Homo sapiens: one gene and its partners. The protein of the gene in region 4 purifies or fractionates together with the protein of the main gene of each other region. This does not show direct contact. Each region holds a gene or a part of one and is shown on either strand. Other genes may lie near its edges.

Region 1 (3,500 bases), on a different chromosome or scaffold from region 4:
AACGTGGTGAAAACCCATCTCTACTAAAAATACAAAAAATTAGCCAGGCGTGGTAGTGCACGTCTGTAATCCCAGCTACTTGGGAGGCTGACGCAGGAGAATCATTTTGGCCCAGGAGGCAGAGGTTGCAGTGAGCCAATATCACACCACTGCACTCCAGCCTAGGCAACAGAGCAAGACTCCATCTCAAAAACCAAATAGTTGAGATGACGCCCTTGGCCATGGCCAATTAGAGAATGGAATCATCTGACTCACCCATCCTGCAAACAGTCCTGCAGATAGCACAGGTTTTAAACTGGCTGTTAAACCTGCCCGTGACCTCACTGGCCTTGGCCACGTTCATCCGCATGGATGTGTGGTCCTTGGCACTGATGATGCAGTTGCTGGTGGAGCATTTCTGCAGCACGCACAGATCCACGAACTTGCTGGCGTCTTTCTGCATGTCGAGACCGTGCCTGCTGCCACCACACTGCGCATGAGCCTAATTTTTTTTTTTTACAAAAAAAAAAATTACAAAAAATTATTATATATTATATAATTATGTATAATAATATATAATATATATATAGCATCTACAGGATCTCTCTATGTTGCCTAGGTGGGTCTTGAACTCCTGGCCTCAAGTGATTCTCCTGCCTGGGCCTCTCAAAGTGCTGGCTGGAATTATAGGCGAGAGCCACCATGACCAGCCTCACCAACTATTTCTAAATTTTCTCACTGGAACTTTACTGCCATCTCCACCACTTCAATTTCTGTGTGCCCTTCCTAGTTTATTTGGAGGGTGAGATGCGTCTTGCTCTGTCACCCAGGCTGGAGTGCAAAGGTGCAATCCTAGCTCACTGCAGCCTCAAACTCCTGGGCTCAAGTGATCCTCCCACCTCAGCCTCCCAAAGCGCTGGGATTGCAGGTGTGAGCCCCAGTGCCAGTGTCTGGCCCCTTCTTGTCTTCCAGCTACATCTACACCTTGAGAGGGAGTAAGCGCCTCACAGAGGAGGGGCCCTAGGAAAGAGGCTCCATGGCCACGGGCATATTAAGGGCACAAGGGGCCCACCTGTCTCTCACTGAGTGGCCTCTGTGGCACTTCCTGGGTGAACATGGCTGGGAATGTATTTCTACACCCTTGGTTTGAAAGTGGAATGCCCAAGCTGGGCACAGTGGCTCACGCCTGTAATCCCAGCATTTTGGGAGGCTGAGACAGGCAGATCATTTGAGGTCAGGAGTTCAAGACCATCCTGGCCAACATGGTGAAACCCTGTCCCTACTAAAAATACAAAAATAAGCTGGGCATGGTGGCAAGCGCCTGTAATCCCAGCTACTTTGGAGGCTGAGGCTGGAGAATTGCTTGAACCCAGGAGACGGAGGTTGCAGTGAGCCGAGATCATGCCACTGCACTCCAACTTGGGCAACAGAGCGAGACTCTGTCTCAAGAAAAATAAATAAATAAAAATGAAAGTGGGCTGGGCACGGTGGCTCACGCCTGTAATCCCAGGACTTTAGCAGGCCGAGGTGGGTGGATCACCTGAAGTCAGGAGTTCGAGACCAGCCTGACCAACATGGAGAAACTCTGTCTCTACTAAAGATACAAAATTAGCTGGGCATGGTGGTACATGCCTGTAATCCCAGCTACCTGAGAGGCTGACGCGGAAGAATCACTTGAACCTGGGAGGCGGAGGTTGCAGTGAGCCGAGATTGCGCCACTGCACTCCACCTTGGGCAACAGAGTGAGACTCTGTCTCAAGAAAAATAAATAAATAAAAATGAAAGTGGGCTGGGCACGGTGGCTTACACCTCTAATCCCAGCACTTTGGGAGGCCGAGGCGGGCAAATCACTTGAGGTCAGGAGTTCGAGACCAGCCTGACCAACATGGAGAAACCATGTCTCTACTAAAAATGCAAAATTAGCTGGGTGTGATGGCACATGCCTGTAATCCCAGCTACTTGGGAGGCTGAGGTGGGAGAATCGCTTGAACCTGGGAGGCAAAGGTTGCAGTGAGCCAAGGTTGCACCATTGCACTCTAGCCTGGGCAACAAGAGTAAAACTCCGTCTCAAAAAAAAAAAAAAAGAAAGTGGAATGCTCTGGGTGTGTGAAGTCAGTACACCTCAGACAGGAAATAGTACTGCCAGATATAAGTCCCAAATGCTGCTGTGCCAAGGACCCACAAGTCTACTTTTGAGCCCGGCTGTATAAAATGAACAGTGGATTCCAAGAGCCGAACTTCTAACAAGAAAAGTATGTGAGAACCTTTCTGCTGCTTGGCTTCTGTTCTAAAAAAAACTAACAGGAAAACTCAGGAAGCTAGTCAATAGCCAACACTACGGCTTTTTGAAGCTCAGCACATACTGGTTCATACCATAACGGAGCGCCACTGTTTATAAAGGCACCAGAACAAGTCAAAATGAGCTGAGATAGGACATGGATTTCCAGATGCAAAACTCAACTATGATGCTCTTTTAACTCGTTTTTATAAGGCACTTTAATGAATCTTGTTATCTATTAATAGATACTGGGATGATTTAAATGAAGCCACAGTTGTACTATTAAACTGTACTAACAATTCTCTATTAAACCAAACATTTTTAATTGCTTATTAATGTGTAATAAAACAAAGAAATATGATTACCTCAGCCCACGTTATTCCTGTTTGATTGAGGACTAAAACCTTCAGTACAGAAAGCGTTCCAGTTAATACTGAACCGGAGGGAAATTTTAGTTTATTTTCACTGTGTAGAAAAAAAAGATACAATGTACTTATTTCTATACAGTAAACCCAACTGAAATAGTTGTTGAAAGCAACAATCTGGGTTTTAATCTAAGGGGTTTGATTTGTTTCAATCTTAAAATGGAATTATATTTTAAAAATCACTTTTTTAATGATTCAAGTGAATCAAGACTACCTAATTTTTAACATTTACAACATACAACTTTTTGGTATCAGCTGTGTAAAGATGCTTTCACAGGATTAGGGCACCTGTATGCGGCTGTAGGCTTCCTAAACCCAAAACTCAGGCATTTGCAAGGTGAGCTTCCAGCTTCACAAGATATGGCTCTGGATACTGCAAAACAAAGTCCCGTTCTCCAGAGTCTTACTGATACACTGAATCATGGGCTAGAATTTTGCTTCTCTAAACATAGAGTCTGCCCTTTGGCTATGAGGATGGATGAAATTATTGCCCCTTAAATTATTTCTCAAAACCCTAATCTCAGAAAGTATTCAATCCTGACAGTCACTTTGAAAGACGATACTATTAAAAAACACAAGCCCGTATTTCCAGAAGATGAGACACCATGGGTTGAATTGCCCCCGTTTGCTCTATTTGGGAGCACAACTCATTCAGGCCTGTCTACCGGCTTTACTGTACACTCACATGTCTATGCAAAAATGGTTCAAGAATGAAAGGGGAAACCTGTGCTGGGCACGGTAGCTCACGCCTGTAATCCCAGCACTTTGGGAGGCCAAGGCAGATGGATCACCTGAGGTCAGGAGTTCAAGACTAGCCT
Region 2 (3,500 bases), on a different chromosome or scaffold from region 4:
CATAGTTTGTAGTTTTTGTTGTTTCTAAACAGGAATAACCATTTATTAAATATTTAGTATATGCTAGGAACTTGGAAACTCTGCTAAGCACTTCATATGTTATTTTGCTTAATTCTTCTAGAATCCCTTGGAGGTATATATTTTCTCTAGATGCTGTATAGAAAAATATGGCTCAAAGAAGTTAATTTGTGCCAGGTCACAAAGCTAATAACATGACTACTAAGTGGGAGGTAGAGATTTTAATCAAATCCTACAGGGCTCTTAAGTTCACATTTGTTCCCCTAAGCCATACCACCCTCCAGAAGGGAGAAATTAAGACTTTCCCAGGCCAGACGCAGTGGCTCATGCCCTGTCAGCCCAGCACTTTGGGAGGCCAAGGAGCTTGGGACAACCCTGGGCAACATAATGAGACCCTGTTTCTACAAAAATCTTTTACAACTTTTTTTTTTTTTTTTTTGGTGGGGTACAGAGTCTTGCTGTGTCACCCAGGCTGGAGTTCAATGGCACCATCTCAGCTCACTGCAACCTCCGCCTCCTGGGTTCAAGGGATTCTCCTTCCTCAGCCTCCTGAGTAGCTAGGATTACAGGCGCCCACCACCATGCCCAGCTAATTTTTGTATTTTTAGTAGAGATGGGGTTTCACGATGTTGGACACAATGGTCTCAAACTCCTGACCTCGCGATCCACCCACCTCGGCCTCCCAAAGTGCTGGGATTACAGGCATGAGTGACCGTGCCCGGCATACAAAATTTTTAATTACAAGAAAAAAAAAAAAAGACTCAGCTGGGCACAGTGGCTCACACCTGTAATCCCAGCACTTTAGGAGGCTCTGATGGATAGATTATTTGAGCCCAGGAGTTTGAGACCAGCCTGGGCAACATGGTGAAACCCCATCTCTACTGAAAATACAAAAATTAACTGGGTGTGGTGGTGCATACCGGTAGTCCCAGCTACTTGGAAGTTCACCTGAACCTTAGGAGGTTGAGGCTGCACTGAACCATGATCGGGCCACTGCACTCTAGTCTGGGCAACAGAGTGAGACCCTGTCTCAAAAATAAAAATAAAAATTCTTTAAAAGACCTACCCAGACAAACAAAAACCAAGTGAGTTGATCACTACTAGACCTGCCCTACAGGAAATGCTAAAGGAAGTCTTTCAAGTTAAAGTGAAAACACTAGACAGCAACACAAAAATATTGCTCTCTGGTAAAGGTAAATATATAGACAAATACAGACTTCCGTAGTATTGTAATGTTGACATATAAATCACTTTAGGCCAGGCACGGTGGCTCAAGCCTGTAATCCCAGGACTTGGGGAGGCCGAGGCAAGCAGATCATTTGAGGTCAGGAGTTCAAGACCATCCTGGCCAACATGGTGAAACCCCATCTCTACTAAAAATAAAAAAATTAGCTGGGCGTGGTGGCGCTTGCCTGTAGTCCCAGCTACTCAGGAGGCTGAGGCAGCAGAATTGCTTGAACCTGGGAGGCGGAGGTTGCAGTGAGCTGAGATGGTGCCACTGCACTCCAGCCTGGGTAACACCATGAAACTCTATCTCTAAATAAATAAATATCACTTTAAATCCTGGCATAGAATTTAAAAGACAAAAAAATACAAACTATGTTAATGGATGTATAGTATAAAAAGATGTAATTGGTAACATTAATAGCAAAATGGGGGGTCAGAGATATAAAGGAGTAGAATTTTGTATGTGATTGAGTTAAGTTGTTAGCAGTTTAAAATAGATTATGCAGTCGGGTGTGGTGGCTCATGCCTGTCATCCCAGCACTTTGGGAAGCCGAGGCTGGTGGATCACCTGAAGTCAGGATTTCAAGAGGAGCCTGGGCAACATGGTGAAACTCCGTCTCTACTAATAATACAAAAATTAGCTGGGCCTGGTGGCACGTGCCTGTAATCCCAGCTACTCCAGAGGCTAAGGCACGAGAATCGCTTGAACCCAGGAGGTGGAGGTTGCAGTGAGCCAAGATTGTGGCATTGCACTTTAGCCTGGGCGACACAGTGAGACTCCATCTCAGAAATTAAATACATACATAAATAAATAATAAAAATAGATTGTGCCTGTAATCCCAGCACTTTGGGAGGCTGAGGCGGGCGAATCACCTGAGGTCAGGATTTCAAGACCAGCCTAGCCAACATGGTGAAACCCCATCTCTACTAAAAATACAAAAATTAGCCAGGTGTGGTGGCGCGCACATATAGTCCCAGCTACTGGGGAGGCTGAGGCAGGAGAATTGCTTAAACCCAGGAGGCAGAGGTTGCAGTGAGGGAGATCGCACCACTGCACTCCAGCCTGGGCGATGGAGTGAGACTCTGCTCAAACAAAACAAAACAATACAAAACTGACAAGATGTAATGAAAGCAGTACTAAGAGAGAAGTGGATAGTTGTAAATGCTTACATTAAACAAGAAGAAAGATCTCAATTCAACATCCTAACTTTACATTTCAAGGGACTAGGAAAAGAAGAGCAAACTCAATCGAAAATTAGCAGAAAAAAGCAAGTAAAGATTAGAACATAAATAAAATAGAGAGTAGAAAAGCAATAGAAAAAAATCAACAAAACCAAGTTTTTTTGAAAAAAATCCATAAAATTGACAGAATTTTAGCAGATTAAGAAAAAAAAGAGTCGGCCGGGTGCAGTGGCTCACGCCTGTAATCCCAGCATTTTGGGAGGCCAAGGAGGACAGATCACAAGGTCAAGAGTCCAAGACCTGCCTGGCCAAAATAGTGCAACCCCATCTCTACTAAAAATACAAAAATTAGCCAGGCATGGTGGCACATGCCTATAGTCCCAGCTACTCGGGAGGCTGAGACAGGAGAATCACTTGAACCCAGGAGGTGGAGGTTGTGCTGAGGGGAGGTTGTGGTGAGCCGAGATTGCACCACTGTACTCCATCCTGGGCAACAGAGCGAGACTCTGTCTCACAAAAAAAAAAAAAAAAGAAAAGAAAAGAAAAGAAAAAAAGAGTAAAGACTCAAACTAAAGTCAGAAGTGAAAGAGGAGACATTACAACAAATGCTGCTGAAATAAAAAGGATTATATGAGACTACAATGAACACTTATACAATTGTTATACTCCAACAATCGGATAATCTAGAAAGGGATAAATACCTAGTAGCATATAACCTACTAAGACTGAATCATGAAGAAACAAAAATCTGAACAGATTTATAACTAGTAAGGAGATTGAACCAGTAATTAAACACCTCCCAATAAAGAAAAGCCTAAAACCAGATGGCTTCACTGGAGAATTCTACCAAGTGTTTCAGTCTCTTCAAAAAGTGGTCCCAGGAAAACAGGATATCCACATGCAAAAGAATGAAGTTGGACACTTACCTTACACCATATAAAAAATTCACTCAAATGGATTAAAGAACTAAATTTAAGACCTAAAACTGTAATATTGTTAGAAGAAAACATGGGAAAGCATCAAGATATTGGATTTGGCAATAATGTCTTACATACGACATCAAAAACACAGGC
Region 3 (3,500 bases), on a different chromosome or scaffold from region 4:
TGGGGCAATTATACCATCAGATACCTGCAAAAATATTAAATTTTAATTTCTATTTTTAAAAATCAGAGAACACCTCTTAAAAAAATCTAGCAGCAATTATCAGTCTTAAATAATGTGGCAGCATATTCTGGTTTCTGCCTCCAACAAACAATGCTAACGCTATACTTGAAAAGAGAAATCTATTAGAATACAGCTTTCTGTATAGCAGATCCTAACTTTCTGTCCTCTCCAAGTTTTTGTTCGTTTCAGTTTAAACTAAGAAAATATGACTGATTTGCTCTTAACACATGTACCTCAGGAGGAAATATTTCTTCAGGGAGTGTTTTGAATGAGCAAGAGCACATTCTAGTCCTGACTCTCCTAGTACATGGTTAAATGACCTCTTCCGGCAAGGCGTTTTCCTTAACAGCAAGACCAGATTAAATCAGAGATTTGACATGACGAAAGATACAAATGTCACAGCCCTCCTGTAACCTGTAACCCAGGGATGGCAGTGGCCATGGAAAGAATCCTAAAGCAACAAAATAGTGCCAAGCCACATGCTCCTTCAGCCTTCACCTCTGCTTATTTTTTTCCCCTTTCTGAGCTATTTAATCTTTTTCTCTTTTCTTCCTGTCTTCCTACTACCAACAGTACCCCCACCTGTCTGGAATACCTGTTTGGTATTCAACTGATGGGGTAAGTTTATTAATGTAGTTTCTGTTTTTTACCCACTATGCAGTAAGATGGATTATATCGCATCACCACCTAAAATTACAACTTCTGCTCTTCAGAAACAGTAACTTTGGCATGAAGACAACAAAGAATTTAAAATAAATATATAAGTAAAAAACATCATAACAGCCAAATATCCATCTGAAACAATAATTCACTACATTTCAAAATTAACAATTTAAGATTAATGTTCTATTTAAAATATGAACATTAAATGATAAACTTAGCTAATTAAAAGATATTATAAATATAAATATTATAGGTTATGGTTTCAATTAACATTATGAACAAATAAAGCTTTATTCAACACACAGATTAAGATACATGAATGTCCACTAACTTCTCTGGAAATAATTTTTGCAGTTGGTACATCACAAACATCGGACAATGCAACAAAATCACCAAATGAAGACATCCTATCAGCCCCTGTAAATAAAATTAAAATGAGGTATTTATCACAAAGTATCCTGATACAGAAAAAGTAATAAAATTCTCCACTGTCATATAAAATTCATTACTCTAAAGCTAATCTTACTGTTTACATAAGATTTTAACAGATCAATAAGTCATTTAACTGAAGTAACCAGTAAGAAAGTATTCTTTAATTTTACCCTCTAGAGTGACACTCAGAAAACTTTTTCTGTGAAGGACCAATTTATATATACTATATTCACAAAAACAGGGTGGCAGGCTGGATTCAGCTGAAGTTGCTGACCACTGCTGTAGATGATAAACTATGGTAATAGTTTCTCAAGAACTTTCAGAAATACTAAAGGGATATTCATGGGTTATTAAATTCAACAAGTAAATGTCTCTGATAAAACATGACTCTAACCAAATGTAGTAAAGTTAGAAGAGCCATAAATCACGCCTGTAATCCCAGCCCTCTGGGAGGCTGAGGCAGGTGAATCACTTGAGGTCAGGAGCTCAAGACCAGCCTGGCCAACATGGTGAAACCATGTCTCTACTAAAAATACAAAAAAATTAGCCAGGTGTGGTGGCACGCACCTGTAATCCCAGCTACTCAGGACGCTGAGGCAGGAGAATCGCTTGAACCCAGGAGGTGGAGGTTGCAGTGAGCTGAGATGGCGCCACTGCACTCCAGCCTGGGCAACAGAGCAAGAAGCTGTCTCAAAAAAAAAAAAAAAAAAAAAAGAATAGCTTTTTGTAATTTCAATTTTGGTCACATATTAAACAATAACAAATGCATTCAATAGCCTAAATTAGCAAAATTACATTGACCAAATTCCAATTGTGTTTCCATTTATTACACTAAAATACTAACAAATACTTTTTTTTTTTTGAGACGGAGTATCGCTCTGTCACCCAGGCTGGAGTGCACTGGCGCTATCTTGGCTCACTGCAAGTTCCACCTGCCGGGTTCACACCATTCTCCTGCCTCAGCCTCCTGAGTACCTGGGACTACAGGTACCCCCCACCACGCCCAGCTAATTTTTTGTATTTTTAGTAGAGACGGGGTTTCACCGTGTTAGCCAGGATGGTCTCGATCTCCTGACCTCGTGATCTGCCCGCCTCAGCCTCCCAAAGTCCTGGTACTACAGGCGTGAGACATTGCGCCCGGCCTAAAATACTAACATACACTTTTATAAAGAAATGTATTTTGAGGTACTCACAGAATCAATCTCAAATATTAATAAAACAAATTAAATAGGAAATCCTATAATGAAACAAAGGGTATTTTACTTTAATCAAACTATATTATATAGAATAACTGTATATTTACATAGAGATAGAAGTCCTTAATTTCATCTATATATTATACAGAATATCTATATATTTTTTCTTTATTCTATCCTCTTTATTCTATTTAGGATAAAATATTGCTTTTTCTTTCTCCCCCAAATCAAAAAGCCCTATGAGTCTGACCTCTTGCTCTTGCATATGCCGCTGAGATGGGTGTGAGGGTTTTATAGAGATCATAAACCATGCAGACTTTGGCCTCATCTTCACTGAGTGGAATTCCAACAGCAGCACCTGGTTAGAAAATAGTAAAATCATAAACAAAGAAAGCTAAAGTTACTACCTGTCAACTCCTAAATCAAGACAGTTTTCTTAACACCCAGTCTACGCAGCACATTTTCTAGTGCCTGTGCTAAATTAAACAGAAATCTATTTAGCCAGATAATTATACACTAAAAATATGGTTGTGGGAGCAGTGTGAGGGAAATCTCCTCTCTGCCCTCCAAAACCACAGAGCCACTGAAGCCTGACAGTACCCAGCGTGTAGGTGAAGCTCGTTTACTTCATTACTGACTCACTCTTTCTCTCTGTTCTGCTTGATATCACTTTGATATCACACATCATTTATTTCTTCCCCACTCACATCACTTTAACACCCAATAAACACCTGAGAACAAATCATGTGCTGGAGGACTGTCAGCAAGATGTGGTGTACAGACAACTCAATTGCGGAGTTCATGATTTAAACACAGAAGCAAAGTATCTCATACAACGACTATAAGAAGTTTCAGATAAAGAGTCCAAAGAAGAACTTCTTTATGTTTACTCCATTACATTTTCAAAGATGTGGCACAAGACTTAGTCTATTGCATTAGGACATTTCACTTTTATTTTCTAAACTTTTATGGTTCCACCCCACAAACAAATTCCTGCCTCATTTTCCTGACAATATTACACAATTCTGTGTGTGTGTGTGTATCAGATTTTATATTATTACATTGATACTGTTATCAACAGATGACTTTCAGATTTCATAGCATGTCTATATTCACATTAGAACTTGTTAATATTCAAAAAAATTTAAG
Region 4 (3,294 bases):
ACAGTAGGACCAGGGCCCAGCCTAGAACTGAGTCCACGTCAGTTCCAGAGGTAGAACGATGGCCTCCAACCCCCACAGTACACATTGAAATCAACCTTCTGCTTGGCCCGGACTAGCCCAGAACTTTTCCTTCTCCCAGCACCCTGAACCAGAAGGTGTGTGTCACGTCCTAAGGTCAACACCTTGGACAGACAGAGCTAGGTTCTATTCCTGGCCTGATACTTAACATCTGTGAGAGCAAGTCGGTCTCTACACCTGACTTTCCCCATTCGCAGGATGGATGGATCACTCATCTCTCAAGGCTGTTACAAAGATCAGTGCTACTCAGAGTCATTCGTGCAGTAGGTGACTTAATAAATGGTGGCTGCCTTCTCTGTCATTGTTGACCAAGGTACCTAGTCCCTTGCCTGCATACAGCATGTGAGGCATGATGCCAAGAGTGTCCTGTCCCCAAGCCACATGTTAGCAATGATGAAGAAAAGTGGTAAGGACAGGGTCAGGTGCTGAGGCGGGAGCTTTGCCTCTTTCACTTCCAACCCTGCCCTCATTTCAAAGGCCTGACCAATTTCTCACCAAACTCATAGCCATATTTCTCCCAACTGGGATTAGATGGGGATCAAGTGAGAATCTTTCAACCCCACAACCAGCTGCACAGAACAAGGTATGCCTTGAGGTCCTTATGAGTAAAATGTTTGGTCCAGCAAGACATTGCTCCAGGGAGATTAGTTGTTGGCTGGCCCTGGAGGCAGATGCCCCAGGCCTCTTCCTGCGTCTTCCTCAATTGGTAGAACCAGCCTTTCAAAAGATGAAGGGATGGTATGTAGACCCCATCACAGCTTCTCCAGCAGCAAAAGGCTGGAAGAGCAAGAGCTACTCTTACCATTTAGCTCATAAGGAGACTGAGGATTGGACAGGGTAAGGGACAAAGCAAAGTTCACCTGTAAAACTGCCAAGAAAAGCCAGGACTAAAACATCTGTCCTGACCCCAGGGAAGGGTGGACTGCATGGGGTGTTAGGGTGAGCACTGGATTTCATGTCAGAGGACTTCATCTTCATGAGTATGCAGACCATACAACCATAGTGAGATGCCATGCTTAGGGATGTATCTTTTTTTTTTGAGACAGGGTCTCACTCTGTCACCAGGCTGGAGTGCAGTGGCACAATCTCGTCTCACTGCAACCTCCACCTCCTGGGTTCAAGCAATTCTCCTGCCTCAGCTTCCCAAGTACCTGGGACTACAGGCATGCGCCACCATGCCCAGCTCATTTTTTTGTATTTTTAGTAGAGATGGGGTTTCACCATGTTGGCCAGGCTGGTCTCCAACTTCTGACCTCAAATGATCTGCCCACCTCGGCCTCCCAAAGTGCTGGGATTACAGGTGTGAGCCACCGCGCCTGGCCAGGGATGTATCATCTTATTACAAGGCCACAACGTGCAGCCTGCAGACTGCACTCAGCTTATACACATGTCCAAGTTAACCCACCCAGTTATTTTTTAAATTATAATGAGGCCAGGTGCAGTGGCCGAGGCGGGTGGATCACTTGAAATCAGGAGTTCGAGACCAGTCTGGCCAATATGGCAAAACCCCGTCTCTACTAAAAATACAAAAAAATTAGCCAAGTGTGGTGGCATCTGCCTGTAATCCTAGCTACTCAAGAGGCTGAGGTGGGAGGATTGCTTGAACCCGGCAGGTGGAGGTTGCAGTAAGCCGAGATCACGTCACTGCACTCTAGCCTGGGCAACAGAGTGAGACTCTATCTCAAAAAAATCAAAATCAAAATAAAATTTTAATGAGTTGCCTGTATTTGAAAATCATTTTGTATAGAGATCTTGGTATCTCTGGCTCTCCTGAAAGGTTAGAAGCCCTGGTCAGACGGACCTGGGTTCCTAGGTGGCAACCAGCCCTTTACCCCTTCAGCTCTTCCAGTCCTTGTTCAGCTGGCATCACTCATTTACCTGCCTAGCCCCTGTGGGTGTGTGGGTTCATGATCTCAGGAAATCCTCACAATCCTGAAGGGGGTTGCTATTACCTTCATTTCACAGATGAGAAAATGAAGACAGAGAAAGAATTTGCCTGGATTACACAGCCTGTAAGTGGTGGGGCTGAGATTCAAACTGGGGTGTGTCCCGCTCCAAGGCCCAGGCTCTCCTCACCACCTGGTCCTGCCGCTCTGCTGTGCTCCAGGGAGCCACTCCCTACTGTGGGTCTCAGTTTCTTCTTCTGTCAATGGGGAGAATGACTTCTGCACTGTAGAGGACCCCATGAGGGCCTCTAAGAGGGCAGACAGGCAAGCACTTTATAAACTCTGGCAAGCCCTGTGTGGGGATCCCAGGATTAGACACGTGACCCTTGGCTTGAGGTAGAAGAATAAACCCACCTTCTTGGGCAGGAAATGAACCCCAACGGGGTACTTGTCTGGATGGGTCCACAGCTCGATCTGCGCCATCACCTGGTTGGTGAAGGAGTTACTCATCACGAAGCTGGGGTGGCCCATGGCACAACCCAGGTTGACCAGCCGACCCTCGGCCAGCAGGATGATGCGGCGCCCATTCTTCAACCGATACCGGTCCACCTACACGCAGGCAGGGCAACAGTGAAGGCAGGCAGGGCCCCGCTCCCACAGCCCACCCTCTGATCTGGCAGGCCTCTCTGCCTCCAACAGTGCCCATGAGGAGTCCGAACTGCTCCAAAACAACCTCCAGCACATGGCTTAGCACAAAAATAACAGCCAATATTTATTAAGAAATGTTGAGCTGGCCGGGGCACGGTGGCTCACGCCTGTAATCCCAGCACTTTGGAAGGCCGAGGCAGGCGGATCATGAGGTCAGGAGATCGAGATTATCTTGGCCAACACAGTGAAAGCCCGTCTCTACTAAAAAAAAAATACAAAAAATTAGCCGGGCGTGGTAGCAGGCGCCTGTGGTCCCAGCCACTCGGGAGGCTGAGGCAGGAGAATGGCGTGAACCTGGGAGGTGGAGTTTGCAGCGAGCCGAGATCGCACCACTGCACTGCAGCCTGGGCGACGGAGCGAGACTCTGTCTCAAAAAACAAAAAACAAAAAAACAACAAAGAAATGCTGAGCTGCAGACTGCACAGTTCTGCTGTGAGAACTTCACGTGCTCACACTTGCTTGGCGCATATGAGGCACTCAGTAAGCAGCAGCTAATGTTATCGTTATGATCACTGTCATGTGCCCTGTACTAAGTCCTTTACAGGTAACTACCACATTTCATCCCAGAAACAACCCTGTGATTTCAGTACTGCTGTCATCCCCATTTCAGATTCAGAAACTG

The links.
Region 1: the proteins of AHCY (region 4) and TBCE fractionate together in Homo sapiens (co-fractionation; one large-scale study listed by BioGRID). This does not show direct contact.
Region 2: the proteins of AHCY (region 4) and BLVRA fractionate together in Homo sapiens (co-fractionation; one large-scale study listed by BioGRID). This does not show direct contact.
Region 3: the proteins of AHCY (region 4) and ATIC fractionate together in Homo sapiens (co-fractionation; one large-scale study listed by BioGRID). This does not show direct contact.

Annotation. Positions count from the first base shown.
Region 1 is NC_000001.11:235,429,927-235,433,426, reverse strand, and holds part of TBCE (tubulin-specific chaperone E), read right to left. Parts: intron 2,723-3,500; coding exon 2,623-2,722; intron 482-2,622; coding exon of another isoform or gene 329-481; exon of another isoform or gene 195-328; intron 1-194. UniProt on the Homo sapiens protein: Tubulin-folding protein; involved in the second step of the tubulin folding pathway and in the regulation of tubulin heterodimer dissociation.
Region 2 is NC_000007.14:43,793,180-43,796,679, forward strand, and holds part of BLVRA (biliverdin reductase A), read left to right. Parts: intron 1-3,500. UniProt on the Homo sapiens protein: Reduces the gamma-methene bridge of the open tetrapyrrole, biliverdin IXalpha, to bilirubin with the concomitant oxidation of a NADH or NADPH cofactor. Does not reduce bilirubin IXbeta.
Region 3 is NC_000002.12:215,332,559-215,336,058, reverse strand, and holds part of ATIC (bifunctional purine biosynthesis protein ATIC), read right to left. Parts: intron 2,710-3,500; coding exon 2,602-2,709; intron 1,141-2,601; coding exon 1,055-1,140; intron 25-1,054; coding exon 1-24. UniProt on the Homo sapiens protein: Bifunctional enzyme that catalyzes the last two steps of purine biosynthesis.
Region 4 is NC_000020.11:34,283,062-34,286,355, forward strand, and holds part of AHCY (adenosylhomocysteinase), read right to left. Parts: intron 2,574-3,294; coding exon 2,379-2,573; intron 1-2,378. UniProt on the Homo sapiens protein: Catalyzes the hydrolysis of S-adenosyl-L-homocysteine to form adenosine and homocysteine. Binds copper ions.